Linked DNA regions of Homo sapiens: all the other regions are linked to region 1. The links come from fine-mapping of genetic effects on gene expression. A gene starts in region 1. Each other region holds a variant in brackets. All regions are shown on one strand. Distances are between the middles of the regions. Region 1 holds the start of SIRPA (signal regulatory protein alpha). Region 2 has its middle 85 kb from the start of SIRPA. Region 3 overlaps LOC105372501 (a long non-coding RNA gene).

Region 1 (9,192 bases):
CTTGAGGTTGGCCAAGGATGATTTTTATGTGGACAGAGAACAAGGGTCAGGGCCCCCTCCAGGGGGAGAGGTGAGGGAAGCCCTGCTGAGCGCCTTTGCCAAAGGTGCTATATATAAATAGCAGGTGGTTCAATTATTATCCTTCCCTAATCTCCAGTTTCCTAATCCCCCAGCAGGTTTGTGAGTGTGTATGTGTCTTGAGGAACAGTGAACAGCAGAGCCTTCTGGAAGTCCAGGGCAGGAGGCTGCCTCTTCTCTGACTTCATCAGCAGCCCCCATCTCCACTCCCACCCCAGATGGAGTCTGGTGACAGATTTTCCCAGGAGCCTCCCTGGTTACCTTCATGGTCTAGACCCGATGTGGCCTGAAGAGTTGGAGACCTTCCCTGCACCCACCTCAGATACCAGGATAACCCCAGAACAATCTTTCTCATTGGTGCCCAATTCCACGCTCCTCTCTCTCCAGTCCACCCTCCGCTTGCAGACTGGCCTTTTAGACACATAAATCAGACATGGCCCTCCCGTGCTGAAAACCCTCTAGGGGTCTCCCAACTGCAGAATAAACGCAGGCTCTTTACCCAGGTCTTGGAGACCATCCCACCCTCCCCAGTCCTGCATACTGCGCTTTCTCTCCTCCGGCCTAGCCACCTGGGGCCTTCCCCTCCTTGTGCTGGGCCCTCTTCCTGGAACACCTTTCTCCCCAAATCTTCGCCTTGCTGACCCTACTTGTGATTCAGCAACCCATGTCTCAGGGAGGTCTTACTGGCCCCCTTATCTAAATACGCTCACCCCTCTCCTTCTCTAAGTTCAATCTTCCGTTCTTCATTAATTATTTCTACTTGTCCACTTACCTGTCTCCCCTAGTAGAATATAAATTCCTCATGGACAGGGACCTCGTGCTCTCCCACACCCAGAGAAATGAAAATTCCCTTGCACTTCAAATGCTGCCCAGAACCCTGTGGGTTCTCAAGGACTGTTGTCAAACACTTCACTTATTTATCAAATGCTTATGTTGCACTTGGTATGTGCTAGGCTCTTTTTAACATGTCTTACAAATATTAACTCATCAAATCCTCACAATTGAGACTCACGCTGGCCTCGTCTCAGATGAAGAAGCTGAGGCACAGAAGAGGTAAGGCACTTTCCAGTCCACCCAGCTCATAACAGTAGCCGGGGGATTTGAACCCACGGAGTTCAGCCCATGTTCTCAAGTGTGGCACCTTCCCTGCCCCCCTGCACAACAGCAGGGCCATGCCTTCACCAGGAGGCTCGGGGCAGGAGGGGAGGCAGTGGTGTTACTTTGCACAGGTCTTTAACCTGGGAATCAGGAATTCAAATCTTGTTTCTACCCCAAGCTTTGCTGTGTGGCCTTAAGCAAACCTATTCCCTCTCCGGGCCTCAACTTTCTGTCCATTTACAGGGTTGGGCCTTCTCTCACCTTGTGTCATTCCTGTCCTCTTAACCGCCACTGTGTGAACCAAAATTCTCTCCCATTAGCAGCGGGGTCTTGAACTTGTGTTCCTCCCACAGTGCGGAGCCTTCTGCCAGGTGACCACGACACTGGCACTCCCCATCACTGACCTGGCTACTACAGGAACGGCGTTCCCTCCGGGAAAACCGGGGTTCTGTCCTCTCCAACTCCAGGCCTCTGGCCCCGGCTCCCCTTCCCCTCATCTTCCTCAGGGCTTGTCCTTCTCCCGGAACCCAGGCCTTCAGGGCCCCGCTCTCCCACACACGCCCCGGCCTGGGCCTCCCACCCGCCCAGTCCGCCCTCCACCACCGAGACACCTGGCCAGGGGGCCTCCACCTCCCTGGGAAGGCCCCGACCCTTCCCCTCTGGTTGCGCGCCACAGCCCCCTTCTCGCTCCCTCTCCTCCCCGCGCCTCTTTTCCAGGCGGCACCGAAGTCCTTCCTACACACACGCTATTTTTGTACCATCATCTCTTCTTCCTCTCCCCTTCCCCCTGCGTTCACTTACTTCCTTCTTTTCCTTCACCTCGGCCCGGCTCTGAAAGGATCGGGCCCCTCCGGCCCGCACCCACCCCCAAGAGGGGCCTTCAGCTTTGGGGCTCAGAGGCACGACCTCCTGGGGAGGGTTAAAAGGCAGACGCCCCCCCGCCCCCCGCGCCCCCGCGCCCCGACTCCTTCGCCGCCTCCAGCCTCTCGCCAGTGGGAAGCGGGGAGCAGCCGCGCGGCCGGAGTCCGGAGGCGAGGGGAGGTCGGCCGCAACTTCCCCGGTCCACCTTAAGAGGACGATGTAGCCAGCTCGCAGCGCTGACCTTAGAAAAACAAGTTTGCGCAAAGTGGAGCGGGGACCCGGCCTCTGGGCAGCCCCGGCGGCGCTTCCAGTGCCTTCCAGCCCTCGCGGGCGGCGCAGGTCCGGGCCCGGCAGGGACGGGGAGGGGCAGAGCGGGACCGGTCGGGGCTGGGGACCAGCCGCGCGGGCTTCTGAACGGGCACGCTGTCGGAGCCGGAGGCTCGTCTAGTCCCGAGCCCCAGCGGGCCGCGGCGGCTCGCGGGGCCGCCTTCCCGGGACAGCAGCCGGGGCCCGGGCGCCGGCGCGGGGGAGGACGCTGCCCTCCCCGGCCGGGCGCGCAGCTCGCAGCCCTCGCTCCCTCCCCCGGGGCGCGCAGGCGGGCGCTCGCTCGCAGAGAAGGTGCCGGCGGGGCCGGAGCCCCGAAGCCTCCCCGGGCGGCGGGAAGACGGGAGGAGGGGAAAGGGAAGGAGGGAGGGGGTCGGGCTGCCGGGAGGGCGGGGGCAGCGGCCGGGACTGCGGGCCGGGAGCGAGCCCAGCCGCCCGCGCCGTGTGGAGCCCGGGCGGGGCAGGTGGGCAGCGGCGGGGGCGGCTCCGCGCGGCCGGGCTCGGCCGTGCTGCCCCTCGCCCCTGCTCGCGCGGTCCTCTCTCCCGCGCGGTCTGTCGGTCTGCGCGCCGCCTCGCTCCTCGCTCCTCGCTCTCCCCCTCTTTCTCCCCCTCTCGCCTCTCCGTGTCTCTGGCTCTCTGCCTGGCTCCCTTGGGTCTGTTTCTCTCTCCTGCCGCCTCTCTCTGGCCGCCCCTGGCTTTATTTCTCGCGCGCTTGGGGTCTCTCCCAGTCTCCGTCTCTCCATTTCTCCTGGGGGGCGGGGAGGGGGGGTCTCCAAAAACCGCGGCGGCGGCGGCGGCCGCTCCAGGCGCCCGTTCCGGAGTCGGGGGGAGGCCCAGCCGGGAGGGGGGAAGGGGGGGAGCCTTAGTCATTTCCCCGCTCCAGCCTGCTCCCGCCCGAGCGCGCACTCACGGCCGCTCTCCCTCCTCGCTCCGCAGCCGCGGCCCATGGAGCCCGCCGGCCCGGCCCCCGGCCGCCTCGGGCCGCTGCTCTGCCTGCTGCTCGCCGCGTCCTGCGCCTGGTCAGGTAAGCACCCCCCCGCTCCCCACCGCTGCACTCCCCAAACTGCGGGCTCAGGCCTCTCAGACTGGCACTGGGACCCCTTCGGCTAATGCCGAGCAGTAATAGGGGGAGAGACGCCTGTAACCAGGGTTATAGATGCAGAAACTGAGGCCCAGAGAGGGCCAGCGACATGCCCAAGGTCACACAGCCAAGGGTAGAACCCAAGTCTCTTCTATGAGAGTTTGTCTCTGTGGACTCTGACTCTGTGCACTGTGCTGGGCACTGAGACAAAAGAGCCGAGTTGCTTCACTCAGCCCCTGCCCGGTCCAATGGGGAAGGCTGACTGACAGTGGCTTTCAGAGCAGGGCCGTCCGGCTTCCCCAGAATCTGTCCCCATGGACATACGACTTTCCACATGTTTGACTTCAGGGTGTGAGGGGAGGAGGTGAGGGCAGAGGTCCTCCCGATGCTGCCTGGAATGGAACAGAGACAAGCTGTTGCAATTAGGGAAGAGTGAGCCCTCCCTCTGGTGCGCAGAGTAAACCGGTGTTAGTGTGTGCCTGGGAGAGAGGGAGCCGGGAGGCCGCGGTAACCCCAGAGCGAGCTGCTGCGAGCAACAGATCCTTATGTAAAAACACGGTGGATTGTCCCTGTGGTTGCCAAAGCCTCTCCCTGGTGGTCTTGCTCCTTGAGGCGCTCCCAGCTCCCCCTTCCTCCTGCCTTCCCCGAGCTTCCAGGCAGCTCCCTGCAGTTCAGGTGCTCCGCGGGGATGTTACCTGTGGCTCTGACCATGTCTTTCTGTTGGCCTACATCAAACACCTGGCTGTCGCCGGCAGGCGGGCTCTGAAGGCTACTGTGCATGTTCACCAAAGGGTGAGGTCACCATTCAGGAGTCTTGCTTCTTAAATGGGTTTTGCAAAACCATGGGTCTCCTGGGAGGGCACCGGGTGGGGGGCGGGGGGAGCAGAGAAATGGCATTAAGGGAGTTGGGAGGGAGAGAAAAATGGGGATCTTGTTTTTTGTCGTCTTGAAACTGTGTTGTAGGCAGTGGGGTCTCTCTGTACCTCCCACCCTTGAGGAGGGAGGTAAAGATGAGCTCAGTGTCCAACACCCCCTTTTGCGTTTGACTAGAGATGGTAACCATCTGATAGCAGGGAGAAAGGGAGAACTAGCAAAGAGTGGGTGGAAGGAGAAGTATGGGGGGTAGACAGCTGCTTCTCTCTGCCCTGCAGTTTCCCCTGAAACCCAGGAATTCACATAGGCATCCCCCCACCCCACCCCACCCTCCACCCCCAGTTCTTTTCAGTTATAGTTGCGTCCTTGCTGGGCTGAAGGGAGCACTGATACAGTTCACGTCTCTCCAGTGAGTGGCATCTCCTATCTGCTCCTTCCTGCCTGAGCTGGCCATTTGTACCCTGCAAAAGTCCGAGTTCCTGCCCTGCCATCCTTCCTGGCCTGGAAATGCACAAGTGTCACTCACAAGTGCTTAATTTTCCTGAAGCAGGGAATTGGGCCCGAGTTAATTTCTAAATGTCTATTCCAGACCCTTCTCCGACCAGGAGGCTGTGGTTCAGTCCCTGGCAAACGAGCAGTGACGCTGATTAGCAAGTGCTCCGATGGGCAGCCTGCCTTTCCTGGGGCACCGGCTGGGAACACCAACACCTTTCTTGTGAGCACATCTCCCCCTTTTGCCTATAAAAACAGTCTATAAGATGGTAAAGATTGGGCCATAAAACTTCCGTTCCAATCCATTCAGCATCAATAGCCTGAAAAAGTGGGAGCAGCAGAGGGGCCAAGATTAGCTTTGAAATAAATAAATCTTAGGAGGTAAGAATGAATTTCTTGGTCGAGGGTGGTGGGGAAGGGATGAGGTGCGACCATCATAGCTCAAGTCTCCCATTATCCTTCAGTATCTGTTCTTCGGGGTCCTGGTCACACCATGGGCCTGGGCAGGGAAGTCACCTGGTTTGGCTGAAGGATGGGGCCTCAGGCCCCTCCCCCTATTGCTCCAGACATGGAATTTACAACAAAGAAGTAGAGAGACAGGATATGAGGGTAGGAAGGTACAAGGAGGCAGTTGTCCAATTTTCTAAGAAAATGGATTTGTTCGAGTGAGAAACTAAAATGTCAGGTTTAGGAAGGCGGCTTTGGATTGAATGACTACTAGTGTCTCAGGCAGAACTGTCAGCCTGGGAGGTGTCACATGATTCCTGTGTCTTCACATGATCACTGTTTTGGGGGGGTGGGGCCAATCATGTGAATTATCCTGGGTGGGGGAGGCAAGAGAAGAAGTTTCTAAAGATTGCTTTTAGCACAAATGCTGCCAAAGGGAAATTCTAAAAAGATCCCAGTGAAGTCACCAACCTATGTTTTTGGACCCAATGTGAGGCCTGTTTCCTAAAACAACTGCACTGAGGGAGATTCTGAGGCTGGGAGAAGGGCAAGGGACTGAGGCCTGGGGACACCTGGCACCTGATTTTGTGTCAGCAGGGCCTGACGCTGAACCCGCAGGATGCCTGCTTGGCCCCAGGTAGGCCTTGAGACCTCTGAGTCACCCCCCAGGCCGACCTCAGATAAACTCCCATTCATTTCTTCTCTCTGGCCTGGAGGAGGCCAAGCCAAGTTGCAGTTCAGGCTCTGGGGAGCAGCGGGGCCCCCCAGTGAACCTCTCACCGTTTGGTAGAGGGTGGCACTCTGGGGGCTCCTCTGTACTTTCCTAAATGGTAAAGTTAATCTCACTTCCTCTTTCGTAAGAAGAGAAAACGGGGCGGGAGTGCTTTGGCTCAACACATCAGGCTGTTGGAAGTTCCTTTAAAGCCATAGTTTTCTCTGAGTACTTTCTGGCCTTTACCAACCCCTCGGAAACTCACGGTAATTCACGTCTGTACTTGCAGTCATGCAGCACCTATGCAGTGCTGGTGTGAACCATGTGTTGAGAGAAGGGAGGAAAACCAACATTCATTAGATAGTTAATGGCGTTCCAGGCCGGATGCTGCTCCTGCGTCGTCTCACCCGCAAGACATGGATTGGCTCTTCTCCCCATTCTGCAGATGCAGAAAATCGAGTCCCAAACTGGGGAACTAACTTATAAGTGATAGAGAGGAGCCAGGATTTTGGATGCTGGCCTTCCTGCTGGGTGGCTTCTAGGGAAGAAGCTCAATGACTTAATCAGGATGATTTAGTCCAAGCTGGAGAGGGAGTGAGAGAGGCCCCTTTCTGGCCTTGGGTGGAGGACTGTAGAAGAGTTCTTTCTCTGGGCAGAAGGTTTTGATGAAGTCACAGGCATTTCTCTGAAAGCCTGCTGAGGGTGGAAATACTGACAGCCCCTTGGTCCTCACCAGTAACAACACATGAGAGGTGATGTGGCTCCTGTGAGAGCCCCCCATCTGGGCTGCTGAGCTCTGGAGCCCCCAGAGCTGGAATATTCCTCCCTGCATCTTCCTGGTGCCCTTTGCGACAGATGGAGAGGGGGTGTGCGAGAGGAAGGGAGTCTAAAAGTGTTGTACGGATCCCACACGCGCTCGCTTGCTGCTTCCAATGGCTCCGTGCGACAGGTTATTTTCTTATTTGTAGTCTTGGACTGACGGAAGGTTTCCCCCCTCTCTCTCTCTTTTTAAATGTGCTCAGATTTCTGGCCTGTCAACACAACTCAGATCATGTCACTCCCCAGCTCAAAACTGTTGAGTGGGTCCAAGTTTTCTTTAAAAAAAAAAAACAAAAAAACACAAAGCTGCCGTGAGGCCTGGGCTTCCTCCCTGCCAGGCCTGATTTCCAGCCACATGTTTTCCAACAAGCTGACCTGTTGAGATGCTGCAGGATAACCAGGCTTCCTCCCTGCAGACCAGAGCTTTGCTGGCTACTCAGCCACACGAGCACCCCAAAGACCCTGAGAAGCCCTGCAATGTAGAATCCCGAGCTGGGTCACATTTACTCCAGTGTTCCCTGAACTTATGAACGAGAGGCATTTGATTTGTAGTATGCCCGTTAGCATGTGGCCTCTCTCCGTTTGGTAAACGGTTTTCTACAGATCCATGCCCTCAGCTGAACTCTCAGCTCTGTGCCTTGGCCCGTGCTGTTCCTGCCATCAGAAATGCCCTCCCTGTACCTCCTTGTCTTCCTGTGTCTGAATCCTACTCATCCTCCGAGGTTCAATTTAATGTGCCTCCTGGGGAGAGGTCAGAGGAGCCTCTCCACGCAGACACACACCCTGGCCTAGCGCTAAGATGGTGCTAAGACCCCTGGGTGTTGATCTGAGCCCTGCTACTGACTTGGACAATTTGCAGGAATCTGTGTCTCATTTTGCTCATCTGTAAAAGAGGAATGGTATTAACCACTCTATTGCAAGGATTAAGTTAATTAATGCGTGTATAATGCTGGAAGCCATGCCTTGTATGTAGTAAGCACTCAATACATATTAACCAGTGTTGTAATTAGCATGGCTTTATTCTGGTTTGATTCCTCTTTTTTAACAATTGGGACGGATTTTCATAAAACATCTAACACAGTTGCTTACACATAGGGGGTACTTAAAAAACAGCAAAGGCTGTTCAGTGAACAAATGTCCTTCAGCTTGATATTTTCCTTGTAGCTTTTTTTTTTTCTTTTTTTTTTTTTTGAGATGGAGTTTCACTCTTGTTGCCCAGGCTGGAGTGCAATGGCGTGATCTCGGCTCAACGCAACCTCCGCCTCCTGGGTTCAAGCGATTCTCCTGCCTCAGCCTCCCGAGTAGCTGGGATTACAGGGATGCGCCACCATGCCTGGCTGATTTTGTATTTTTAGTAGAGACAAGGTTTCTCCGTGTTGGTCAGGCTGGTCTCGAACTCCTGACCCCAGGTGATCCACCTCCCAAAGTGCTGGGATTACAGGCTGAGCCACCGCACCACCCAGCTGTCCTTGTAGCTTTTATGCTGTTGGGGGATGGACAAGTTGAGTAGAAACCCAGGCTAGAGTGATTTAATTGCCTGTTACTAGGGACTGAGTGCTGTGGGCACAGCCTGCCTCTAGGTGTCTCTATCTGGATCCACAGGTCTGCAGTTGTGGATTCCCGGACCTGCAAAGCAGTAGGGGGCCTGAGAGAGCCCTCTGTGCTTTCATCCAGTGCCTTATGGTGCGGCCAGAAGAACAGAGAGAAAAAAACTGGCCGGGCCCACGCGGGAGATCCATGGCAAGGCCCGGCTGGAACGCCAAGCCTCCTGTGGTCCAGGCCAAGGCTTTTAAAAACTGGGCTGTGCTGGAACTTTCCACTGTTTCAGCCAGAAATCTGACAGGATCCCGAATTCCCCGGGAAAACACTAAAGTAATACTAATAGGAACCATCTGGGTTCTCTGCTTCCTGGGCTCAGCACTTGGTGTGTGTGACCCTGGTGGTACTCACAGCCACCTGGCGATGCACGTCGTTATCTTCGGACCCGTTGGATCTGTGAGGAAACTGAGGCTCTGAATGGTGAAGCAGCTTGCCCAAGGCCACACCGTAAGCGCCAGATGTGGATAACCACTGTCGGCCTAATCACAGAGCCTATGTGGTTAACTGTTGTGCCATTCCTTAGCCGTCACTGAGGCTTGCTTGACAGGTAGGGAAACTGAGGCCCAGTTGTGCTGGCACCCTGCTCCCTTAGTGCTCCTCTCATTTTTGTTTTTGTTTTTTCTTCCTTTCTTTCTTTCTTTTTTTTTTTTTTTTTTTTTTTTTGAGACGGAGTCTTGCTCTGTCGCCCAGGCTGGAGTGCAGTGGTGCGACCTCGGCTCACTGCAGCCTCTGCCTCCTGGGTCCAAGCAATTCTCCTATCTCAGCCTCCCCAGTAGCTAGGACTACAGGCGCACACCGTCACGCCCAG
Region 2 (10,384 bases), 86 kb before region 1:
CTCTCCCCAGCACCGCCACATTTCAGTGCGAGTATCTAAGAAATCCAAATCAATCCTGGCCTTTCAGGCTGCTGAGAAGTTATACTTACTGAGGAGAAGGATAGAACATTTAAGAGAAGGTATTGGTCTGATTTATAATTTTTAAATATTTAGATTTAAGGGTGAGTGGACACCAGCCTCCACCAATATCAAGAGTGTGTTTGGCCTAGACCCTAGGAGATATTCAATATTTATCAAATAGATGGATGAATCTCATTTAATTTAATCCTCACACAGACTCAACGGAGGGAAATCACATCGTCTGTGCTTTATTGATGAGGGAACTAAGGCTTGGAGAGATTTAATGACTGGCCTATTTGTCAAGTTAGAAGTTTGTCTAGCAGAGCTGAGAGCCTCAAGCCCTAACGTGTCTGATTCCAAAATCCATTGCAATTGGTTCATGACAAGTTCACTCCCATTATGACCACATTAAATATATTATAACTGTTTGAGCATGTCACTCGCTGATCTTTGGGAACATAAGCACTGTTTATATTACATGAAAAAGGCCTTCTCTTCTTCATTCTTACTCTACCCTCTCAGGCACCTTTGGGAAGTAGTAAGACAGGAGCTAATGCTCCATTTAACAAATGGAAAACTGAGGACTGAGCAATAGCCCAAGGTGTCAACGAGGCTTAAACAAATAGGGATTTTTTTTTTTTTTTTCATGTAGCAAGAAATCCGGAGGTAGCTGGGCAAGGGCTGGTATAATTTTTGCATTATTTTCAGCAAACAACTTCTGCCTCTTGGTCTCTTCTGGCTATTTATTGCTACAGCATAACAAACTGCCCCCAAACAACAACCATTGTATCGTCTACAGTTTTGTGAGTCAGAAATTTGCGCAGGGCTCAGCTGGGTGATCCTTCAGTGATCCATGGAGCGCCGACTAGAGTCACTCAGTGATCTTCAGCTGCTGATTGTGCTATGCTGGAGGATCGAGATGGTTTCACTCAGGTTCCTGGTGCTTTCGTGGGGATGGCTGGAACACTGAGCTCAGCTGGGTCCGTCTGCCTCTCCATGGAATCCCAGGGCTTCTCCAGGTGGGTGTCTCCAGCAGAGTAGTTTGACCTTTTTCATGGCAGCTCATGGCTCCCAGAGGCCATAGCAGAAACTGCCAGTCCTCCTAGAGGTTAGGCCTGGAGTGGGCGTGACATCATTTCCACCATACTCTATTGGTCAAAGAAGTCACAGGTCAGCCCAGATTTAAGTACAGGGGAAATTGACTCCTCTCAAAGGGAGGAGGATCAAAGAATCCACAGCCATCTTTAAATTATCACATGGTCCGAGCTGCTTGAGATGTAGTCATCATGTCTCAAATTCCAGAAAGTGTGGAGGACTGGTGGAGGAAGGTGTTTACCTTCCCTTTTAAGACATTTTCTGGAAGTCACACACAACATTTTCCATTGGCCAGAACTTACATGGGCATACCTAGGATATGGAAGGGAAACTGGAAACTGTAATCTTTATTGCAGGAGGCAAGCCATGTATTCTGATGAAAATTAGGGATTTTGTTGACTAAGGAAGAAGGGGAGCATGGGTATTGAGGACCAACTAAAATCTATTCCATGGTTAGGTGTTTTGTTGTTGTTGTTGTTGTTTTTGCTACCAACAGCCAAACACTGTTCCTAGCAGAGATGTTTCTATACCAGTCTTCTCCTTCCTAACACATCTTCCACTCTGTCATCAAAATAATCTTTCCTTTTTTATTATTTGTTATGTTCCTATACCGTATATCTTTTAATCATTCCTATGCCAACAGCAAGTGTCCGAATTATTTTGTGTTGTGTGAAACAGTAATGGGGTTTGCCACACACCAGGCACTGTGCCAAGCACTAAATGAACATATCTCACTTGATCTCCGCAGTATCCCACTGAGTGAGGATCACAGACGAGGAAGCAGAAACCCAGAGAGGTTAAATGACTTGCTCCGGGCCACACAGAGAGTAGGTGCAAGGCTGAGATTCAAACCCTCGACTGTCAGATTCCAGAGCTGTGCTGTGAAACCCACACATGTGAAGCTCAGGGACTGTTTATGGATGACAGCCCCGGAGCATGGGCAAGACTTGTGCCTGGTGTGTGAAGGTTACAGGTGACAAATGTGAGCCAAGAGCCTGCAGATGCTCCCTTCCCGCTGTGATCCTTCAGTAGGGAAGACTGCATCAAGCCCCAGGGCCATGCTGGCATATTTCATGAAATTAAACTGGCACCAGGAATTCATATCATTCTATTTCCTTTACACCCTGACTGAACCCCAAGTCTGGAGGAGACTTTGCAGAACTGGCTACATTGCTAAGCAGGGCACAGGCCCAGTTAAATGAGGCACCTTTCTGCTCCAGCTCCAAGCTTCTCTGTTCTGACCCCGGTCTTTCTTGCCTTTGCCTCACCCCTGTTCGAGGACATGCAGTGACTCCCTGTTCCCCTCAAGTTCAGTTTTGCCTTTCTCCAAATGCTCCTTGTAAGGACTGGGGAGAATACGGTTCCATCCTTTCGGTGAATTTCAGTTTCTGCATCTGTCAAATGGGAGGAAATAATCCCTGCTTTGCTAAGTAATTGAAATGTTGAGGACCACACAGGACAAGGAATAGGAATGGCCTTTGCAGGGCAGAGCAGGCGAGGGGCACAATCCCACTGGATCTGAGTAGTATTTAGAAGACTAGGCATTATCTCCTCGGAAGGCAGAAAGATCTGGGGTAGGGAGTGGGGTTGTGGAGGATCAGGGAGTGCCCTGCACCTTCTTGTGGGGGCTCCTGCCCACAGTCTTGCAGAGGAAGTGGCCCAGGGTGAGCATTTACATATTCTATATGCCCCGCTGGGGGGACACAGTGAGACCACCGGTTCTGAAACCAGATAAACCTGTGTTTGAGTGTCCCAGCTTCATCTCGTACTAGCTGAAGGACCTTTGGATAAGTCATATCACTTCTGCCTCCAGTTTCACAGCTATAAGTTGGGGCTGAAAAAAGAACCTGTCTCATTGGGATTTTATAAGGAATCAAATGAGAATGTGCGCCTTTAAAGCACCTCATTTAGCACAGAAGAACTGTTCAACCAATAGTCATGGTAAGAGTGACTGGTGTTTTTTGAGCCCTGATTAAATTATATGCCATAAGAGTCTTCTTGATTAGTTTATATACTCCTCACCACAATGCTAAGATGTAGTTAACATTATTATTTCCCACTTGTAGATGTAGAGATGGGGATGCAGTTAGGCTGAACGAGCTGCCCAAGGTCATAGTAAGTGGTAGAAGCTGGGCTTGAACCGGAACCCAGTCTGTCTGATGCAGTCTTCCTTAATCAATAGCCATGCTGTTACTATTACTGTTGACATTACTATTATTGACCTTGAATTCTTTACCCAATATCTCCACACTTCCACAACACCTGGTGGGGGCAGGAAGAGCCACCTGACCCAAAGACTGCCAAAATATAGGCTGAGCAGCCTGTGATACAGCCTGGGACAGAAGCTCCACCCAGCAGGGCTGAGCCCAATTAACTAAACTCATCAGCAGTGATGGTGGCTGCCAGTTTGAATTGGACCACAAAGAGTTGGGATGATGCCTACAAGCTGAAAGACCCTAAAAGATGACATAATTCAAACAAATGTGAAGGCACAGGGGCAATGAGTAAGCCAAACTTCCAAGACAGACAAGGGGGAGGAGAAATTTGACAAACGTCTGCTCCTGAGATGACTATGAACTGACTCAGTCCCAGAGCACTGGGTCCTGAATGATGTTCCAGTGGCTAAGTTGTATTCTGTGATGTGTGGTCAAAATTCCTGCCTTCCAGTCCCTGCATGTAGCTTTACAACAACCCCCATGGCTCAAGTTAGGAGAGAGGCTCTGCTCTTTTCAACCAAAATTAGGCTAGCTCAGCTCTCCCGTTTATCTTTAGGGTAAATGCTAAGATTTGGAAGTGGTGAATGGAGAGGGAGGTAGGATCAGGACATCCCTCCATCAATCCCAGGTGACGAGGCCCAGAAGACATGGCCTGGCCCAGTTCCTGTTATATCAGAACCTTAGTCCATGTCTCACCATCTACAATCATATCCTAAGTGATCTCACTCACCATCTGGGGTGACTCCGGGCCAGGCGTCTCCCCTGCACTCCAGCCTCATGCCCAGCTACTAACTCCACAGCTCCGTCCGTGTTACACAGGCATGTCAAATCTCACCTGTCCAAAATGGAACTCCTGATTGTGCCTCCAAAACCCACCCCTTCTGCAGGATTTTCATATCAGGAAATGCCAACTCTATAATTCGAGCTGCTTAGGTCAAATACCTTGGAGTCAGCCCTGGCTGTCCTGAGTCATATTCCAACATTCTTGCAGTCCACAAATTCTATTGGCTCTTCCTTCTAAACGTATCCGTGCCCTCCATGATCACCCTAGTCTGACCCACTATCGTCTGTCACCTGGGGTGACACAACAGCCTCCTCTTGCCTCTGGCCTGCCTTCTACAACTTGTTCTGAACTCAGCAGCCAGAGATGTCCTGTTAAAACCTAGGCTGGAGCTTGTAGTCCTCTTGCTCAAAACCCACCCATCACTGCCCTTCTCACTCAGAGGAAAAACAAAGGCCTCCTAAGTCACACAGTCTGACCTCCTCAGTTTCCCCTACAGACCTGCCTCCCTGACCTCACCTCCCAGAGCTCTCCCCAGCCCTTCCTCTATTCCAGCCACTCAAGGTGATCACCACTCCTGGAAGGAGAACTCCCACCCATGGGCCTTTGCATCTGCTGTGCCCTCTGCCTGGGGTGCCCCTCCAGCACGGCTCCCTATCTCACTTGTGTGGGTCTGCAGAGATGCCTTCCCTGGGTACCTCATTAAAAATTACCACCCACTCCAGCAGTCCCTCCCCCGTCTCCTTCCCTGCTTTAACTTTCTCTGTAGCATTTAACACCATCTATTGACACGCGGTAGATTTTACTTACTGTTTCGTGTCATCTCCCACACTGGGATGTTAGCTACGTCTAGGGAAGGACCTTCTTCCATCAGGTGTATCCCCCTTGCCTAGAACACAGCGTCTGATGCATAGTAGGTGCTCAGCAAATCCTTGTCAAATGAACAAAGAAGCACACATAAGAGGACTTCCTGGAGGCACCCCTACCCAGTTCTCACGCCCCCAGCAGCCACCCTCTGGGTGTTCCAGGCCCTAGGCTAGTCCCCTCACTTCTTTGATCCTATTCAGGGGAAATCGGCCTCAGGCCCTGTCCGAAAACAGGAGAACTAAGGAGAAGCTAGTCATGGAGGAATTAGTCCAAATAGGTGGGGATTTCTTTTTAATTAGAACTATTTTTTTTTTTCCCTTCACACAAAAGGACTTGTGTCCCAGTAGCTGGCTCTCCTGTCAAAGCTTGTCCCGGGCTGAGAGCTGGAGCTCTGTGTTCCCACCAAGGATCTACTGTCAGAATCACTGGAGAGCAGCGTGGGCTTTACAGAAGGAAGGTTCTGGGGCAGCAGGGGCACGTGGCCTCCCTGGGACAGGCACACACCTGGAAACCCCACAAATGGGAAGGACTCCATGTGGGTGACAGGTGAGGCTGGTAACAAGCGTGTAGGGTCACTGTACTGTTCTCTCCACTTCCTGTAGTTTGAGAATTTTCTTTAGAGAGAGAAAAAAAAAAAAGAGTGTTTTTCCCCTGAAGTTCTCTTTTCCCGACACATGCCCAGAGGATTTCCTGTAGCCCTCCCTCCCCACCATACCCCACCCACAACTTCTCTT[T/C]TCTCCTCCCCTCTGATTCGAGGAGAGAGCCATTCTGCTCTGCTTACTAGCTGCCTGTCTGCATCTGGGGACACTTACAAACCTTTGATGCCTGTTTACTCCCCTACTCGCCAAGATTTGGGTCCAGATGGCCTGGTGAGGTGGTGCTGGGCACTGATGGTTGCTAAATGCTCCCTGGGTGATCCTGGCACTTTCTAGAGTTGAGCAACTACCTTGTTACCCCAGACCCAGCCCTGACTCTGCCACACTCAGGGATCTCCTGTTAATAGGGTCCAGCCTCCTTAGAAGACAGTTTAACAACATATTTTGTTACCTGAGCCCATCTTTGGGGTCCACCATAGCTGCCTAAGTGACTTGAGGAGATATTTCTTCCAAACCCAGACAAAGAGCCTCATTCACCACCAGCACTCCTGGTGGATGACATCCTCCCTGTTACCTTATGCGACACGGGTTCCCTGTGACCATTTGGAAAGTGCAGAGAAGCACACAGGAGCTGGCCACAGCCCACTTCAAGCCCAGGAATTTGTGAACAGAAAGGAGCCATTGTCTCCAGTCACTTGAAGGGAACAGCTCAAAAACACATTCAAAGGGCCCTGATGATAATGAATATGCTAATATGATTTCCACTGGGCGCCTGTGCTACCTCCAAAAAACCCTTTCTGACCTTCCTCATGGATTCAAAGCTTTCATTGAAGTCGACAGGGGATTTTGGTTAAAATAACATGAAAGTTTTCATTTAAATGGACAAAGCTGGGAGTTGTGAATTAAGCATGAGTTTCACATTGGTCCTGACACCCCTGACCTTGATGGGGAAATGCATAGATTGTGACTGGACCTTCTGGACCTTCTAGCTATTGCCTTTGGGTGGGCAGAGCTAGCAAGCATTAAGGGTCCCTTTTGCATGACAAGTGAACTCTGGAGACCTAGGTTTAAATCCCAGCTCTGACACTTACTAGCTGGGTGACCTTGAGAAAGGCAAATCATTTCTCTGATTGAGCCTCAATTTCCCCATCTGTAAAATGGTTTGGATAATACTTCCCTTGCAGCATTGCTTCCAAGAGTGAATAAGAAGTCTGTATGTGGGAGGGGTTGGGGAAGTGGAAAACATCTTGGAGCTCCCCACCGTCTCACCCAGTCAGAGACCCAGCAAGGGTGTGAACACCTCCAGCCTCCCATATCCCAGACCTTCTTTCCTTCATTCAGCGTATATTTATAAAGCATTTCCTGGGTGCCAGGTACTGTTTTGGGGCTGGGGATTCAGCTGTGAACAGAACAGATGAACTCTGCCCTCAGTGGAGCTGCCATTGTAGTGGGAAGGACAGACATTAAACACATGAATAGATAAATAATAAGTAAGTGGGCTGGGCGTGGTGGCTCACGCCTGTAATCCTGACACTTCGGGAGGCCGAGGGGTGGGGGGGGGGGTGTTGGATCACCTGAGGTCAGGAGTTCGAGACCAGCCTAACCAACATGGTGAAACCCCATCTCTACTAAAAATACAAGGGCGTGGTGGCACATGCCTGTAATCCCAGCTACTCGGGAGGCTGAGGCATGATAATCACTTGAACCTGGGAGGCGGAGGTTGCAGTGAGCCGAGATCATGCCACTGCACTCCAGCCTGGGCAACAGAGCAAGACTTCGTCTCAAAAATAATAATAATAATATGTAAGTGGTAATAAGTTCTTTGGAGAAGAAAAACAAAGTCCTTAATGAAAAGAGCAGAGCTTTAGAATTAGACAGAGCTGAATTCAAATCTCAGCTTGCTCTTTGCTGGCTGTGTAATGCCTGGGAAAGAGATTTTATCTCCCTAACACTCTTCTGCACATTTTTTAATGAGACCCACTGATGAATCACCCACCCATTGAACAAATATTTATAGAACTCTGGGCCAGGCACGGTGGCTCATGCCTGTAATCCCAGCACTTCAGGAGGCCGATGCAGGCGGGTCACTGAGGTCAGGAGTTGGATACCAGCCCGGCCAATATGATGAAATCACATCTCTACTAAAAATACCCCCCCAAAAAAGAAAAAAAAATAGCTGGACATGGTGGCGTGCACTTGTAATCCCAGCTATTCCAGAGGCTGTGACAGGAGAATCGCTTGAACCCAGGAGACAGAGGTTATAGTGAGCCAAGATCGTGCCACTGCACTTCAGCCTGGGCAAGTGAGCCAGACTCCATCTCAAAAAAGAAAAAAGAACTCTGTCCTGTGTCAAGCATTGTTTTGAGTGCTGGGGAGGCCACAGTGAATGAAACAAAAATCCTTGCCCTTGGGAGCTTAAAATCTAAAAGGGAGAAATAGACAATTAACAAATATACGTATATCAGGTGATGAAAGAAAAAGCAAGGGAAGGAGGTCAAGAATGTGGAGGACATTATTTCAGGGAGTGGTGGTCAGGGAAGGCCTCTCTGGGGAGCTGACATTTAAGTGGAGCTTTGAAAGATGTAGGGGAGTTAGCCATGTGGGTGTCTGAAGGAAGAACCTTCCCAGTCGGAGGAGACATCAAGGGCAAAGGCCCTGAGGTAGGGCCATGCGTGGCTGTTGGGAGGATTAGGGAATTGGAGGCAATGTCTAAGACACACCCAGCACAGCCCCTGGCTCTGAGTGGGGGTTCAATCAATAGCAGTTATTATTTGTACTCATTTTATGAAAAATGCAAGAGAAGTCATTTTCCATTATTATAAAAGTTCTTGAAGGCTTTGTGGATTGATGACTTTATTCCCTTTTCTTCTTTTGTTTTTCTGAATCAGAACCAGCAAGTCCAACCCCCAAGCCCACCTGCCAGCCCGCCTCTGTGCCCCCAGTCCCAATCCGGCAGGAATGTTTGACATGCAGTGGTGCTGGAGGGAGGGAGTGTGTAATTAATGATGGTTATTAAATAATAATGCCAGCATCTTGAAGTTCTTTCCTCTCCACAGCCTCACAAATTAGACGCCTTCGAAATGTTGTGCCCGTCGCCAAGATGCACCTCCATCTGGGGTGGAAGCAACATCTGCTAAACAGCTGCATCTTGTTTAAGAGCTGGTACTTAATTCAATTATTCAGCTCTGATAGGGGCAGGCAGAGCTGAGCGGAAGGGGCAGGCCCAGTCATGGGCATATGCTGCTCCACGTCTTCCCAAGTTGACCCAAACTCCTCTCCCACAGCGTCCCCACTCGCATCTGTTGATTCAACCAACCTAGACATCTGTACATTTCCAGAACCGGCCATGCTCACTCATGCTGCCTCCTTGCTTTTTACTCAAGCTGTGTGCCCCTGCCAGGAACACTCTTCTGCTGCCTGTCCAACTCCCGTGTCCTTCGAAAGGCCCAACTCAAACATCAGTATCTCCTCCAGGACAGAGCATAGGGAATTACCTCCCATGAGCTCTCTCGGTGCTTCATGCATTCCTTAACTGGAGCATTCATAACATTACATTGCAATTTTGTGTACCCTGCTGTTTTGTAAGCCCCTTAGGCTGGGAACCATGTGTATTTCATTCTTGTTATCTCAGCATTGTACCTGACTCCCCATAGACACACCCAGCACAGCCCCTGGCTCTGAGTGTTTAGTTAATGGATGGATGGATGGGTGGGTGGGTGGATGGATGGATGGATGGATGGGTGGGTGGGTGGATGGGAGGGTGGATGGATGGATGGATGGATGGATGGATGGATGGATGGATGCATGCATGGATGGATGGGTGGGTGGATGAATGGGTGGATGGGTTGGTGGGTGGATGGATGGGTGGGTGGATGGATGGGTGGGTGGATGGATGGGTGGATGGATGAATGGATGGATGAAGAGATAGAAGAATGGAAGAAAGGAGGGAAGAACAAAGCGGTAGACAAACAGATGGACCCACTGCCACCATCTAAATCCAAACAACCATCATTTCTCACTGAAACACTGGGGTCTCTCACTGGTCTTTCAGTTTCTACTCTTGCCCCCAGTAGTCTCTTCTACTCAAAGCACTTAGTAATCTTTTGAATATGGATTTATATCATGTCACTCCCCTGTTAAAAACCTTCCAGTGGCTTCCATATTCCTAACCCTGACCTCCAAACCCCTATAGGAAACAGCCCCTGCTTATCCCTCTGATATCATCTCCTCTCTGTCCTATGCTCTGAATACTTGGGGAACCTGCCAAGCTCTCTCTCACCTCAGGACCTTTGAATCTGCTCTTCCCCTTTGCCTGGGACTCACTTCCCTGGATTTCTGTCAAGCTAGTATCTTCTTAAGTCTTCCAGTCTAGCTCTAATGCCACATCCTCAAAGAGACACTTCTTTACTTTGCCAGTTAAAATAGCCACCATTGTGGTCCTTAAAGGCCAAGGGGCCTGATCCAAATACCAATGCTTTGGCTGCTGAAACCCAACAGGCTTCCCAGAGCATCATCCTCAGCTGGGGTCGTGACGCAGACCTCCCCCAAGTGCCTGCCCTACAAGCCATCCCTTCCCTGGGTGCTCACTCCTCCTCTCCATCAACTAAAGATCCTTCATGAATGGGCTTGTCTGGAACTGCCGCAATTAAACTATCAGAGCAACATTGGACCATTTGTTTACTATGGCACTTAGAGCTGGAATGGCTTGTTGTTTTGACTGTTTCTATTTTCAGCTCCATTTCCTAGGGGTAGTGGGGAGAGGGTAGGCA
Region 3 (10,384 bases), 58 kb before region 1:
GGAACACTGAGGCTCTTGGAGGGCAACAGTCATCCAATATCATGTGGCAAGTTGCCCAGGTTTCTGTCCCCAGCCCAGGGGTAATTCCAGTAAGCCAACTGGTCAGGCACCCAGGTTCAAATGTGGGCTTTGCACTGCTTGCTGTGTGACCTTGGGCAAGTGACACCGCCTCTCTGTGCTTCATCTAAAAATAGGGATAAAAATACTTACCTCGAGTGAGGATTAGAACATAAGGCAGGCATCCGGAATCTCTTTTTGACTGCTGTATGCATGGTCAAAAGAGCTTAAACAGCTTAAAAAGCCTGACCCCCAGCAAAAGTGTGACCAATGATGGTTAACATGAGTGAGTGCTGGTTCTGCCTGGCACATGTGAAGATTCATGTAGTCCTTAGCAATCCCACAAAGTAGGTATTTTTGAATCCCATCTTCCACATAAAGAAATTTAAATGAGGCACCCAAGGCCACAGAGCTGGAAACTGGTAGCATCAGAAGCTGAATTCAGGCAGGTGAGCACTGTGCTAAGTGCTCTACACAAATGCATTTGTTCACTCATTCATTCATGTAACAAGCAGTAAGCACCTATTATACACCAGGTACTGCTTTAGATACCATGCATACAGCAGTCAAAAAGAGAGTCAGGATGCCTGCCTTATGTTCTGTTTCTCATTTGTGGTAGGTATTTGTGTTATCTATTTTTAGATGAAGCACAGAGAGGCAGTGTCACTTGCCCAAGGTCACACAGCAAGGAGTGCAAAGCCCACATTTGAACCTGGGCCTAGCTGATGCCTCGTTTTCTGTCCTGAGGGACCCTTTTCCAGCAATATCCCCAGAAGGGACTGAACCAGAGGTGTATGCACTGATGTCTGTCCAGGGTTCAGGCCCATTCAGAGCCCCGGAACACTCCATCCCACGCAGCCTTAGCCTCATTTCCCAAGTGGCAAGTGGCACTCAGGCCCCACCCTCTCCAAGCTGTCATGAGGATTCCTTCCTTCTTTCCTAACACTAATTGAGATGCCTCCTGACATTGTACAGATACCATAGTTTAGGAAACCCCTCCTCCTTTCCTAGAGGTTAGTTTTGCTTCAGTCTGCAGAAGAGAAAACCCAGGGGTCTCAGAGGTGACATGATTTAACTAAGGCAGTGACTCAATCAGAATTCAAGCCCAGACATGTGTGCCTCAAAGCAGCAGCAGTCAGGGTCTCAGCAGGAGCAGATGGCACCCTCCAGGTAGGTCATTTGATTTGATTTTAATAAAGGGATCACTTAGGAGGGATGAGAAAAGAGTATAGCAAACCACAAAGGATAAGGTAGTACCTCAGAGCTGGTGCAAGTCGAACTATTATGGGCTCAAAGGGTGAGAGGAGGGAGAAGGGAGAAGTTGGCTGTCACCAGGAGATAAGAGAGAGCCCCCAATAGGAGATGTGGCCTTCAGTTGAAGGACACAGGCAGCTTGAGGGGATCTTGAAGGCAGAGAACTGGGGAATAAATACACCAGCCTCACTATCCTCTCTCTTCCCAGATCCCACCAGTGCTCCCAATGGGCCAGACCCAATGGAAAGCCAGACAACAAGGGTTCCCTTGATTGACATAATCCCTGCAGGCCAACCACTCAGGACAGAGAGCAAGGAGAAGGATGGGAAGAGGATCTGAGAGGAGAACCACAAGATCTCCAGCCAAAGTCAAGTACACTTTCCTTATCTACTGCCTTGTGCTTGCAGAGGCATAGTAGGTTCTGTTGTCTATGCCAGCAAGGTCACTATGGAAGGTACAGTTGTCACTACGGCTAGTTCATGCTGCAGGAACAAACAACTCCCAATTCTCAAGACTTCAAACAGGTTGGCAAACTATAGCCTGCAAGCTGGTCACTCATCTTGTAAACAAAGTTTCATCGAGACACAGCCACAACCACCCATTTACGTACTGTCTGTGCCTGCTTTCTTGCTCCAACAGCAGAGTTGAGTAGCTGTGACAAGCCTAAAATATTCATTCTCTGGCCAAGAAAATTTGCCAACCCTTGGCTTAAAAAAACACAGGTTTGCTTCTTACTCCGGTTCCCTGTCCATCTCCAGTTGGCAAGGCTTCTCCTCCATAACGTCCACAGTCAGGGGCCCAGGCTGGCGAGCCCTCCCTTGAAGAACCCGCCAGTCTCCCTGGCAGGGGATGCAGACAAAAAATTGCTCACCAGCTCTTGAGGCTCCCATCAGAAAGAGACACACCTCACTTCTGCTCACAGATCTTGGCAGAAATCAAGTGCCAAGGACGTGCCTAACTTCAAGAAGGCTGGAAAGTACAGCCTCTCCACGCACCCCACATGAGGAGACCCAGAAATGGACCCAGATGGTGGATAGCACTCCTGACAACTGCGGCATGCGAACACGGCAAACGGTTGTAAAACAAAGGAATGAGGACACCGCTGGGTCTTGCAGCAAGCTTCTCCAGAATCCCTCCTGTGCACAGGGCTCAGGGAAGCCAGACAGGATTACACCCGGGGGTGGAGAAGCTGGAGAGAATGCATGTCACATGCACGCTCGGCCACTACCCTTTTTTATGGCCTCCATGGAAACAGAAGCAGAAACCAGAGGGTCCCTAGGAGCTCCAGCCACACCCACTTCTCATTCTCTGGGGACAAATGTCTGAGGGCTCCCTTCTCTCTCCATCAGGGTCCAGAAGCTGGCCAAGGACTGAAGAGGCTTTGGCTCAATTTATGACTTTATTACCAGTCGCCTTCCAGCTGTGAGCCTCCACTTCCCCAGCTGCAACAATCTGTGGGTCTCAAGGTGAGGTCCTGTGACTGGCAGCATCGCCATCACCTGGAAACTGATTAGAAATCCACATTCTCAAGCCCCACCCAGCTCTATTGAATGGGAAGCTCTGGTGGAGGATCCCAGAAATCTGGACTTCAACAAGTGTCTCCGGTGATTCTGATGCTTGAGGAATATAAGGCACAAACGAACTGAGATGTGCAAAGCCCGGGCCCGCACTGCTTTTCCAGCAGTCCTCCCCACCTGCATAAATGACAGTTTCATTCTGGTTTAAGCCAAAAACCTGGAGCCATCCTAGAGGGTTCTCAGACCCTAATCCTGTGGCTTAGCCTTTAGAATATATTCAGATCTTGGCCTCCCTCTCCACCTCCTTCACTCTGCGTGGCCCTAGCCTCTGCCATCTGACACCCACATACTACCTTGCCTTTCTAACCCCCGCTCCCTCTTCCTTTGAGCCCTGTAGTACATCCTCACTCCAGCAGCCAGAAGATGCTCTTAAAAACTCAATCAGATGATTCCACGCTTCTGCTCAGAACCTCCAATGGCTTCCATCTCACTCAGAAGAAAACCTGACAGGGCCGCCCTTGGTCTGATTCCCACTGACCTCTCCACCTCCCCAACGCCCTGCCGCTTGCTTGCCGTCTCCAGCTGCACTGACCTGTTCTCTGTTCCTCCAACATGCCAGGCACGCTCCCGCCTCAGGGCCTTTGCTCCCGCTATTTCCTCTGCCAGAAACCCCTCTCTAGTGATCCCCACACGGCCCAAGCCCTCACCTCCTTCAGATCACCGCTCAAATGTCACCTCCTCAGAGAAGCCTTCTCCGACCCCGCCATCCTGCGCTGCCCCCTCCTCTGGCTTTGTTTTTCTCCATAGCCCTCACCACCACCTGACACACATCTTTGTTGTTTCTCTGTTTATAGTCTGCCTCTCCCCACGAGGGTATGAGGGCCACGAAGCCAGGCACTGCCTGCTTTGTTCACTGCTGTATGCCTCCCAATGCCTGAATATTGCCTGGCATGGAGAAAGCCCTGGGTAAATATTTATTGAGTGAACAGACGGATAGGTAGGTAGACAGATGGATGGACGGAGAAATGCTCATTCCTTGGGCCTTGCTGTGGTCAGCACGAGGCAGCCCCCATGGGCACGCCCCAAGAGTTACACCACAGAAAGACCCCAGGATTGAGGGCTGGGTCCTTGTATGCCGCTCTGGGATCAGCAGGTCTGGGTTCAAGTCTCTTGAATTGACCTGAAGGAAATCACATAACCTCTCTGATCCTCAATTTTCTCATCTCTAAAATGGGGATGATGCTGATAATGTGTATCATGTGCCTTAACCTTATAGGACTGCAGCGAGGACTAAACAAGGTGCACGTGAAGGGTTGCAGCGTGATACCCAATACCTGCTAAATCCACAACACACAGGAATTACTGCTGCCCCTATTGCTTTGCTTTCTTCTCAATTTTGCCAGTGGCCTGGGGTACTTGGGCAGCCATAGGGCTTATTGGGAGTATAACTGGCTCCAAAGAAAGGGACTTGGGTTTGAATCCTTGCAGCTACTATCTCGCTATATGACTTTGTGCAAGTCACTAGCCCTCTCTGGGCCTCAATTTCTCCCTCTGAGCAATGGGAAAAGGGTATTGAAGGAGGTTGTTTTGTGATCCCTGCAACTTGCCTCCCCAAGTCCTTCTGGAGGACCAAGCCCACGCTCGCCAAGCCCTCTCCTCTTCGTGGCTGCAGTGGGGAGGCCCTGAAGCTGAGGAGGCTGGCTGGGGCTCATGCTGACTCCTCCCCTAGCCTCACTGATTCTGCAGGGAGGGAAGAGAGAGGCAGTACTGGGTTGTGGCTGAAAGCACCCCAACTCCATGTCTAAACCGGAGTTCTCCCTCTGGTTTCTGTGATTTGAGTGAGTCACTTAACCTCTTGTGCCTTAGCATCCTCATCTGTGAAATGGGAATAATTATCACCTATGAGGATAAAATAAACTGCTGCGTGTAAAGTGTTTAGACAAGTGCTTGGCACACAATTATCACTATTATTATAATAGCTGCTATTATTTCTAACAACCACAGCTGGTCTCTGGACCAGGCACCATCAGAAGTTTTTATAAACTTTGATTTAATTTTCACAAATATTCTACGCCATTATTGTCTCCATTTGAGAGGTGAACAAGTTTGGCTCAGAGACTGAAGCCATTTGCCCAGGGTCCCACAGCTTGCAGGTGGAGCTGGGTTTGAACCCAGTGCACTCTCAAGCCTGGTTCTTTCCACTCACCATGCTGCTTTCCCTTCGCTCTCCGTTTTACTGATGGGGAGACAGAGGGTTACAGAGCTCACTCCCAGGCCTCAGTCCTGCTGGGCCCTTTCACCCAAAGCATTCCTGGATCCATGCAACATC[G/A]TACCTAGAGGCAGAACTAGAGGCCATGATGACTCCTATTCACAAAGAGGCTGCTCAGTGTGAGGGGCAGAGCAGAACCTGGCCTGGCTGCCAACAGGTGCATGGCCAGGTCTCCAAGGGAAGTGGCCCCAGCAGCTCCCAGGCAGCCAGCCCCCCCTCAGCTGGGCAGCCCCTGATCCTCCTCCCATCCCCCTGCTTTATGACCTGTTTTATGAGCGGGAGGCCTGGCAGCTTCCACGTTGCCATGGGAACCAGCCCAGTGCGGGCTCCTGGCAGCTCAATCAGGGATTGGCAATTTTAAGTCAGGAGCCAATCCTGGGGCTAGCGAGGGTTTCCATGGGTTGGGGTCTGTGGGCCCCAGGGATGCACAGTGCCTGCCTGACTGTCTGCCTCTCTCCTCTGCTCCAGCTCCCCAGGTGCCCAAAGAACTCAGGGACCCCACAGCTGGAAGATGACAGGCTGTTAGAGCCCTGGAGGAGCCTGGGGCAGCAGGGAATGACATGGACCACCGAGTGGGGGCTGGGAGAGCTGACAGAGCTGGACCGTGGACACACATGCTTAGGGGCACACAGAGACACTAGGACAGCTGACATGAAGGGACTCACAATGATATACAGATACAGACTCACACAGAGAAACAGAGATATGCACATGGCAGCCACATGTGCATAGCAAAGAAAGGTACTTGCAAACACACAGACATACACAAATCCATAGGAATACCTGGGTGCCCAGAGACTCACAGACACACAGACATCCAAAGACACACACAGAGGACACTTGGACACCCAGAGATACATCCAGACATACACATAGACACACAAAGGACGTACAGACACACACTGCTCACTGCCTGTGTGGTCCAGGCAGCTTGCCCAAACTCTCTGAGACCCAATCGCATCATCTTTCAAAAGGGCATCACAATCCTAGCTTGTGAGGACAGGGAGGAATAACGAGGAAAATGGCTGCGTGTGCTCAGACACCTTCATTCATCCAGCCAGACAATATTATTGAGCATCTACTATGTGCCATGTGCCTCCTCCGAGCTGAGAACAGGAAGCTAACAAGGACCTACCCTCAGGAAGCTCACAGTCTCCTTCGGAAGACAATAAATACAGGAACAAAGCAACAGCTAAGAGTGACTCGGAAGACAATAAATATAGGAACAAAGCAACAGCTAAGAGTGACTCGGAAGACAGTAAATACAGGAACAAAGCAACAGCGAAGAGTGACTCGGAAGACAGTAAATACAGGAACAAAGCAACAGCGAAGAGTGACTCGGAAGACAATAAATATAGGAACAAAGCAACAGCTAAGAGTGACTCGGAAGATAGTAAATACAGGAACAAAGCAACAGCGAAGAGTGACTCGGAAGACAATAAATATAGGAACAAAGCAACAGCTAAGAGTGACTCGGAAGACAATAAATATAGGAACAAAGCAACAGCTAAGAGTGACTCGGAAGACAATAAATATAGGAACAAAGCAACAGCTAAGAGTGACTCGGAAGACAATAAATACAGGAACAAAGCAACAGCTAAGAGTGACTCGGAAGACAATAAATATAGGAACAAAGCAACAGCTAAGAGTGACTCGGTGGAGGAACCGGTTAGGGTAGTCAGGGAACACTTCTCTGAGGAGGTGACATTCGCCTGAGACAGAAGGAATGTGATGGAACTGACCAGAAAGGGTAGAGAGAAGAGTGTCCCAGTTAGCGGGAACAGGAGGTGCAAAGGCGCTGAGGTCAGAGCAGGGCTCCATGTGGCCAAGAAGCCCCAAGGAGATCAGTGTGGCTGCAATGGAGGGAGGAGACAGGGGATGAGTTTGAGAGTAACTGGAGGCCGGAGCAGGCAGGGACTTGAAGACTGAGTGATGTACTGTGGGTTTCATTCTCCATAAAATGGGACCCACAAAAGTGTTTCTATCAGGGATCATCTGGTCAAAATCGCATTTTAAGTAGCTCACTTTGGCTGCTGGCAGGAAACTGCCTGGATGGGGCAAAACAGGACATCGGGAGCCTAGCATTGGGGGCTGTCACAGCATCCAGGGGAAGGGTGGCTGCAGGCTGGACCAGGGTGATGGCAATGGCCATGGATGGTCCTTGAAATTGTGCATTCAGCACATCTTTACTGAGCTCCTATTCTGTGCCAGCCATTGGGGATGCAGAAGCCAACAAGAGAGAAATTCCTGCCTTCACAGGGCATGCAATCTAGAGGAAAGAGAATGGTAACTGAATATAATATATGCCAGTGGTAAGTGACGACAAGTGCTGTGGAAAAAATCAAAGCAGGGAAGGGTGTGGAGATCTGCCAGGGAGGAGTGGGGCAATTTGTAGTTTTAAACAGGAGAGTCGGGAAAAGTCTCATTGAAAAGGCCACATTTTAGTGAAGATGTAAAGGAGGCATGAGATAGAATCTGGGACAGAGAGTTCCAGGCAGAGGAAACAGTGAGTGCAAAGGCCCGGAGGCAGGCCCACTCCTGGTTTGTTTGAAGAAAGCAAGGAGGTCCCTGTGGCTGAGCTGACTAAGCTGGTGGGGGCGGGACAGATCATGCAGGGAAGGAAGGGAAGGAGGAAGGGGCTGAATGGGCAGAAGAGACTGGGACCTGGATGCCTATAGGAGGGAGGGAAACCAGCGAGACAGGGCCTGGCCCCTTCTCCATCCTGCTCCCCCGACCCAAGGAAGCAGCATCTCCCATTCCTCCTTTCATCCCACAAAGCTTCATCAGCCAAAAAGTGAAAGTTTAAAAAGGGAGGAACTGATCCCAGGAGAGGCAGGGCCCTGAGATTTGCCTGAACCCAGGTCAGACCCCAGCCCGGGTGGGGTGTGACTTCCTGTGGCTCTGATGGAATTCTCACTGTCCTCCTCAGGATGCATTCCTGGGCCTGAGGCACAGAAAGAGGACACACAGCCAATAGCAGCCAGTTTCAGGGCTCCTAAGCCTGCTGGGAGACACCCCCAGCCTCAGGCAGTGCTGTCGGGGTGGGCTACCTAAGCTGCAGGTGAGAAGAATGGTGGCTAATTAGGGTGCTGCCTCCTTCTCACTCTCCAGGTCCCAGGGATACCCTGAGTTGGATTTCAGGCTCATTAATGTCTTGGCAGAGAGGCTCTGGCTGTGAGCTCTCTCCAGCTGCCCAGCCTTGCCTGGCAGGAGTAGGGAATAGAAGGGAGACTCACAGGGGAGTCATCTACCCCCAGAGTCAGTCCCAAGGCAGGCCCAGGGTTGAAGGACGTCCTAGAGGACGTCCTAGAGCCCAGTGACATTGGCTGAGACACTCTCCCTCCCTGAGCCCCTTTGTCCCTGTCTCTCCAAGGGGATCATAGGCCTTTTCCCACCTGACTTCCAGAGCTGGGATGAACCCAAATAAAGGATGAAAGTGAAAGTGCCCTGAATCATTAAAGAGACAGGCAGAACTCCCTGTGCCACCCTGGAGGGATCTGCAGGATGGGTTGTTACGTAAGACAAGGCGCCTTGCAACAACTGCTGCCTGGCTGGCCTCCCAGCTTCTGCCCTTCCGTGGTGGCTGTTCTCCCCTGGTAGCCCCTGGATTCTGTTACATAAAATACCAGGTCAAAGAATTCCCATGGGACCCAGCAATTCCACATCTGGCTCTATACCCAAAAGAACTGAAAGCAGCGTCTCAAATAAGTATCCGCACACCCATCTTCATAGCAGCATCATTCACAATAGCCGAAAGGAGGACGCAACCCAAGTGTCCACTGGCAGATGAATAAATGGATAAGCAAAGTGTGGTATATACATATAATGGAATATTATTCAGCCTTAAAAAGGAAAGAAATTTTGTCACACGGTACAGCATGGATGAAACTCAAGGATATTATGCTAAGGGAAATAAGCCAGACACAAAAAGATAAATACTGCATGATTCCACTTATATGATTCATCTTGAGTAGTCAAATCCATAGCAACGCAAAGTAGAATGGGGCTGGGGGACGGGGGAATTCGTGTTGAATGGGTGCAGTTTCGGTTTTGAAAGATAAAACAGCTCTGCATGCGGATGATGGTAACGATTGCACAGTGATATGAATGTGCTTAATGCCACTGAGCTGTACACTTAAAAATAGTTAAAATGGCCAGTTTTATGCTGTGTATATTCTACCACAATAAAAAAAATTGCACCAAAAAACCCCAATGAAACCAATCCTAGCTCAGTCCTCTCCTCTGCTCCATCTTCCTGAGGCTCTGGTTGTATGCCCCAACCTGCATTCCCCATGCCACCCCATATGTTCTGCACTGCGCCTCCCTGACCCATCTCCTGCCCCTCCCCTCGCTCACTTTGCTCCAGCCCTGCTGGCTTGTTCACTCGTTCTCCAACCCACTAATTTCATGCCATGCTTGGGGCCTTGGCACCCAATGTCCTCTCTACCAAGAATCTGTCCTGGATATCTGCAGGGCTTGTTCCTCCCCATCCTCCAAGCTCAAGTCAAATGTCTCCTCAGAGGAGACATTTCCTTGACCCCCTGGACTGAAAGCACCCCCCCACAACCCCACTCCTATCCTCCTCTATCCCTTTACCTAAATGTATGTCTTTCATAACATGTATTAATATCACTACCTGGAAGAATACTTTAGCTTTGTCTGCTGGCTACTCTGTTAGAGTGTCAGCTCTGGAGGGTAGGAATCTCACTTTTTCATGCCTCACAACAATGCCTGGCACATAGTAGGTGCTCAATGAATAGTTATCAAATAAATGGAGAATGATCTTATTGATGTATGATGCATACCTATGACACACATGTTATATCTGTGCAGATGTAAATATATGGGAAAGGCCTGGAAACATGTCCACCAACATACAGTGGTGAACCGGGGAGGAGGGTGGGCAAAGAGGATGGGGGAGTGGCTGTCAAGGGGCCCTTTCAGGGTTCACTGAGTTCACTCAGCTGCTGCATGCAACTCTTACCATGCAGATCATAGGTATGTGAGTTTTAAAAAAGAGCTCTGAGGTGATGCTATGTCCCATGTAGCGTCTATGAGTGATTCTCCCCAGCCTCCCAACTACCCTGCAAGGGCGTTGTTACTCCTACCCTTCTATGAAGCGAAGCGCATTCTGCATTCCCCAGAGTCACCGAGCTCCTGCTACACACCAGGCATGGTTCTGGGCTCGGGAGACACCAGAGTGAAGAAGCAATCCTGCTCTCATGGAGCTTACACTTCAGTGGGGCAGATGAACAATAAATAAATAATTAAAACAAGTCTGTTGGGG

Evidence for each region. PIP is the estimated chance that this variant, and not a neighbour inherited with it, causes the effect.
Region 2: its variant is fine-mapped to the expression of SIRPA in whole blood (TOPMed, PIP above 0.99).
Region 3: its variant is fine-mapped to the expression of SIRPA in whole blood (TOPMed, PIP above 0.99).

What each region holds. Positions count from the first base shown.
Region 1 is chr20:1,892,142-1,901,333 of GRCh38, forward strand. It overlaps SIRPA (signal regulatory protein alpha), which reads left to right and starts at 3,266. Exons shown (of 8, transcript NM_001040023.2): 1 at 3,266-3,385. The coding sequence starts at 3,307. It overlaps LOC102724545 (a long non-coding RNA gene), which reads right to left and starts at 2,109. Exons shown (of 4, transcript NR_186374.1): 1 at 1,978-2,109. RefSeq lists silencers at 2,230-2,489, 2,500-2,619 and enhancers at 3,911-4,426, 8,052-8,621, 8,431-8,480.
Region 2 is chr20:1,805,592-1,815,975 of GRCh38, forward strand. No RefSeq gene overlaps it. Among named protein-coding and RNA genes, the nearest start is that of SIRPA, 85 kb to the right of the region's middle. The variant T/C (reference allele first, on the strand shown) is at 5,754.
Region 3 is chr20:1,833,341-1,843,724 of GRCh38, forward strand. It overlaps LOC105372501 (a long non-coding RNA gene), which reads left to right. Exons shown (of 4, transcript XR_001754475.2): 4 at 1,520-3,201. Among named protein-coding and RNA genes, the nearest start is that of SIRPA, 57 kb to the right of the region's middle. The variant G/A (reference allele first, on the strand shown) is at 5,158.